Linked DNA regions of Homo sapiens: region 1 is linked to region 2. A link means that fine-mapping ties the variant in region 2 to the expression of a gene that starts in the linked region. Tissue or cell type: whole blood. Region 2 holds a variant in brackets; the other region holds the start of a gene. All regions are shown on one strand. Distances are from middle to middle.

The links. PIP is the estimated chance that this variant, and not a neighbour inherited with it, causes the effect.
Region 1: it holds the start of ANKRD27, and the variant in region 2 is fine-mapped to the expression of ANKRD27 in whole blood (TOPMed, PIP above 0.99).

Annotation. Positions count from the first base shown.
Region 1 is chr19:32,673,812-32,676,423 of GRCh38, forward strand. It overlaps ANKRD27 (ankyrin repeat domain 27), which reads right to left and starts at 1,369. Exons shown (of 29, transcript NM_032139.3): 1 at 1,260-1,369. It overlaps RGS9BP (regulator of G protein signaling 9 binding protein), which reads left to right and starts at 2,037. Exons shown (of 1, transcript NM_207391.3): 1 at 2,037-2,612. The coding sequence starts at 2,453. RefSeq lists silencers at 854-903, 924-1,653, 2,224-2,283 and enhancers at 1,297-1,916, 1,804-1,913.
Region 2 is chr19:32,518,234-32,520,987 of GRCh38, forward strand. No RefSeq gene overlaps it. Among named protein-coding and RNA genes, the nearest start is that of PDCD5, 62 kb to the right of the region's middle. The variant T/C (reference allele first, on the strand shown) is at 1,216.

The DNA of each region.
Region 1 (2,612 bases), 160 kb after region 2:
CTCAACACCAGTCCTCATGCCAGGCTGATCTCGAAACGTAACAGCTACTGCTCAGCAAAACGTGGTGGCTAGTGCCTGTAATCCCAACACCTTGGGAGGCCAAGACGAGAGCATGGCTTGAGTCCAGGAGTTCAAGACCAGCCTAGGCAACCTGCTAGACTCCATCTCTACAAAAAAAAAAAAAAAAAATTAAAAATTAGCCGTGCATAGTGGCATGCGCCTGTAGTCCCAGCTACTACAGAGGCTGAGGTGAAAGGATTGCTTGAGTCCAGGAGTTTGAGGCTGCAATGAGCTATGATGGCATCACTGCACTCCAGACTAGCCAACAGAGCCAGACCCTGTCTCAAAAAGAAAAAAACGAAAAGAAAGAAAAGAAAAAAAATATCCACTGCTCTACTCTTCGGCCAGTGGGAAGAGTGCATTTTTTAATCAAAATAGGGGCCTCTATCCATGAAACCCATCAACTTGTAAAATCTGAGCTCTCTGCAGCCTCACAGTCCCTCCAGCACTGCCAGCAGCCCTCGTTCCCTGCATGCTCTAAATCCTCAGCGAAGACCCGTCCCTTGCTCCCTCGCCCAGCACAGGCCGCGAGTGCCCACGTCCCCTGCACCTCGTGGGGCAGCCAAGGGGGCACCGCGTGGCTCGTGTGCTCCTGGGCAGTCCATTTTCAACCACAAGACGGAACAGACTCAGAATCCGGAACATCTCTCGGTGCTTAAGAGTTTTCCTTTAACAATCTTTACCTGTGGGAATGCAGAGACCCCCCCGCCCTGCGAGAGGCCGGCAGCCAGGGATTCCCCGCTCCGCGCCCTCATCACCCCCCGGAAACCACAACCGCTGCGCGCGCGGCTCGGACCCCCACCCGCCGCTCCCCTCCAGCAGACCCTAGGCCTCCGGGAAACCGCGCGGCGACCGCCCCGCGCCCCGCCAGATCCGAACCGCCGGACCCGGCACCCCGGCCACACCCGCCGGTGTCGACGCAGCGAGGCTCGGAGGGTGCATTCTCCGCGCCGACCGCTCCCCTCCTCCAGACCCGAGGGGCGGAGTGGGCAGGGCGCGCCGGCTGCGCACCGGGCACCCACCTGGGGACGCGGGGGCTGGGGCGGCGCGGGGCCACCTGGCGGACCCGGGAGCGGACTCCGGAGAGCAGGGAGCCCCTCCCCCCTCACTCTCCGGGCCCCGCCCGGCCGCCGCGCCCCGAGGCGCAGCCATCCCGCGGGAGGGGAGGCGCAGGAGGAGGCCAGCGCGAGGACACTTACTTAAAAGGCTACATCGCTTCATTCCCAGCCCATCCTGGGCGACGGCGGCACCTCCCTCGTCCGCTGCTGGGACCTCGATGCCCACCACCCTCGCGCGGCGATCTGGCCCTATAGCCCACCCCTTACTCCGCCGTGGGGCGGAGCCGCGCCACAGCTGACCCAATGAGAAACCGTCGTTTCCCAGAGTGACGTGTACGCAGAGCAATCATGGAGTCCAGCCCAGCCGGGGGCGGGGCTCAGGCGGCTCCCTACGCTTCCTACTCCAGCTGGCCCCGCCCCACGCCCGCAACTGCGCGTGCCCAGAACGTGAGGGGCGGGGCTGGGAGCCGGGCTGACACTAGAGGTGGGGTTAGCGCTTGGAAGCACCGACCAACGTGAGCGCAACGCGGCAGGGACACCTGACCCCGGCGGCGCCCAGCCCCTCGGATTGCCAGTCACTGCTCGCTTTGGGGCACGGAGGTGCCCAGTCCTGCGGGGCACCCGACGTCCTGTCGCCGACAGGGTCCGGGAGTCAGTATAGCTGGGTTCTAGTCCCATCACAGGCAAAAACTCCGCGGGAGCCTGGCCCGCTTTTTACCTGGGCCTCAGTTTCCCCATCCGTAAAATAGAACGGGTTGGATCTCCCGAGCGCTAACATTCCAGAACTCGGATGGGGCGAAGGGGAGGGAGGGATGGGCCACCCACACGTGACCTCCCCGCGTGGAGCCCCGCCTACCACTGATCCAGGGGGTGGCAGCTCCGGCCGGGACGAGCGGGGTGGGCGGGTCCTAGGAAACCCTACCCGGCCGCCCTTGGCAGCGCCTAAGGCGGAGCGCGCGGCTCTGCAGCCTGCTTGCCCCGGAGTTGGCACCCACGGAGGATGGGGACCGCACCCTCAGCTTCGCAGGGAGCCACCGTGGAGGCCAGGGCGGTGCAGAGACACGACGTGTGACTCGGAGTGCGCCTGGGGAGGATGGACGAGGGAGCGGGGGACCGCTAACGGGGCTCCCTCTGCGCGCCCCGTCCGCAGAGGCGCACGTCGAGGGTCCCGGGCGGGCTCCGTGGACGTTGGCGGTAGCGCCGAGCGAGTCACGGACCATGAAGAGCGTTCGTGCCGCGCGGCCCAAGGCCGGGATGGGGGTTAGCCACATCCTGCCGCGCTGAGGGGGAGGCTAACGGGCGCGGGCGGCCGGGCCCAGCCGGAGCCCACCGCGATGGCGAGGGAGGAGTGCAAGGCGCTGCTGGACGGGCTCAACAAGACGACTGCGTGCTACCACCACCTGGTGCTGACCGTCGGTGGCTCGGCGGACTCGCAGAACCTGCGGCAGGAGCTGCAAAAGACGCGCCAGAAGGCGCAGGAGCTGGCGGTGTCCA
Region 2 (2,754 bases):
GCACCACCCTGTCATCCTTTTCTGCTGTAGCAGTGGAGATGCGATACTTCCACCTGTGCTTTGGTTCCCATTTCGATCCTTTTTCTCAGATTATTGAGAGCCAGTCTGAGAGGGGTAAATTGATTATTACCCCTTTGTTGCACAGTCAACCTCTCAACTCAACTGCATCATTCCCAACAGCCTTTCAGTGGACTCAAGACTCTTCCCACAGAAGCAAACCAGCAAAAACACAAACAAAACAAAACCAAACCTCCACTTCCCTTCTCTTTGCAATATGTATCATTTTATTTATCTCCTTTATTTATTTTTCCAAATACCCTCCCTCCTCAAAAGAAAAAAAAAGCTGTCTGTTGTCACTTGTCAGTACACTCCAAGATAGCTTTTGGCAGAATTACTTGACTAACTGTTGCTGGTGTTGCCGGTGACTTCATGAAACTCAATGAACATTTTTTAGTCCCTGTGTTCTCTTAATTTTGAATGCTGGTGACTGCTCCATCCTTTCTGAAACCCCCTCTTCCCTTACTTTCTAAGACAATGCTCTCCTGTTTCAATTCCTGTTTCTGTAGCTGCCCCTTCTCTAGTGCTTGTGTGGGATTACCTTCTCCTATTCATCCCTTTGACGTTGGAGCTCCTCGGGGCTTGGTCCTAAGATTTCCCTTCTCACTCTGATTTTCTCTTTTTTGGTGACCTTACCCAAGTCCTTGTTTCAACTACCATCTCAATGCATATGACTCACCAACTGACTTCTGTAGCCCAGAATTGTGTACATATTGACCCATTTGACATTTCTTCTTGATGTCTCCAAGGTACTTCAAACTCAATATGTTCAAAACTGAACTCATTATTTTCACCCCAAACCTGTTTTTTTTTTCTTGTGTTCTCTAGTGTATTTGTTTCCTAGGGCTTACTGTAACAAATAACCACAAACTCAGTGGCTTAAAACAACAGAAATATATTCTCTCACAGTTCTAGAGACAGGAAGTCTGAAACCAAGTTTCAAGAGTTGGCCTCCTTCCAAAGGCCAGACTGAAGGGAGGATCCTTCCTTTGTTCTTCCAACTTCTGGTGGCTCCACTGGTTCTTGTCTGGCAGCCACATAACTTCAATCTGTTTCTCCATCTTCATGTGGCTTTCTCTTCTCCTCTTGTGTTTCAAATCTCCCTCTGCGTTTCTCTTAGAAGGACTCAGAATAACCCAGGATGATCTCACCTCAAAA[T/C]CCTTAATTACATCTGCAAAGACCCCTTTTTAAAAATAAGGCCACACTCACAGGTTCTGGGTGGACATGTCTCTTGGGAGGCCACCGTTCAACCCAGCTCCATGAATGGCACCTTTATCCCGTTGTTCAGGCCACAGGAACCTCATAACTGTGTTTGTGCTATCTTTTCACTTGTTTCCAGTATCCAAAGCATCCGCAAGTTATTTTAATTCCTCAGCATCTCAGGTATCTGTCCACTTCTCCCTCTTTACCACTACCTTGCTCAAGCTATCATCACCTATCACCTAGAGTCTGTAACAGCCTCCTGTCTATCCACAGCCACTCCTGCATCCTACTGTGCATTCTGCGCACTGTAGACTTGTTTCAAAATGCAAATCTGATCATGCTGCCCCACTCTGCCTTATCTCCACGTGTTCATTGTTCTTAGGAAACAGACAAGTGTAACACAGTCTATATTAAAATCAAAATGAAATGAGGATAAGCTGCAAACTGTGAAGCTTTTGGGATGGTAATACATACCAGGCAGGGACATACTTGGTAAAATAAGAAGAATACCTACAAGAATGGATGACTTTGAACTTGACCTGCAACAATTTAATATAATGACCTTCCTAGGTCCCTTCTCTACTCTATAGAAAACAAAGCCACTGGGAATTGATGCTAAAAAGCATCTGTCTCCCTTCAACACTCATCATGCAGTGAATTTTGAGACGGCTGGGATCCCCTCAGAGTATTTCTGCCAGCAGCATTTAAACTTGTCAAGCCTTCTTTCTCCATCCTCATCTTTTCTTATAACTCTTCTGCTGTGGTACCTGAATGTGAGCTGTCCAATTGGTTTCAAAATGAACGGACTCCAAGTTACCTACTTTTATATTACTGTCACTACAAAGCAGTCCTCTCCAATTTATGTTCTAAAAATAGCTAAGTGGAGACCTTATAGGTCTGATGAAAGCAAATCTGTAGCATAAAAAAATAAGGTGTTCACCAGTCAATCATAAACCACCCTCTGGGCACCTATAATGTATTCAGCACTGCGCCAGTTGCACTCCCCTTTAGCAAGTGTTTTGGCCACAAAACAGGGAGATGGAGTGCAAAGTGATTTTCACGAGTAAAATATTCCCTCCATAATTTCTGTTCTTAGGATAGGCTTGATTCTGTTGCCATAATGAACAGCCCTAAAACCTTGGCAGCTTAAAACAATAAAGGGTTATTTCCACTCTTGCTACTTATCCAGCAGGTTGGCTGGGACTTTCCATCATGCTGTCTTCCCTCCTAGACCAGCTGATGAAGCAGCCACTGTTGGGACATGCCTGGTCACTATGGCGGAGAGGGAAATGGCTCTTGAAGGGCTTGCACCAGTAATTAAATGCCCTGGCCAGGAAGTGAGATGTGTCTCTTTGTCTGTCAGCTCACTGGCTAGAATATGGCCCCACTTAACCATAAGAGGCCCAGAAAATGCATTCTATGATCTTCTCAGACAGAGAGAGCACTGGAAATATTTGCAAACAGCACTAAAGATGACCACAGTCTGCCCTCTGG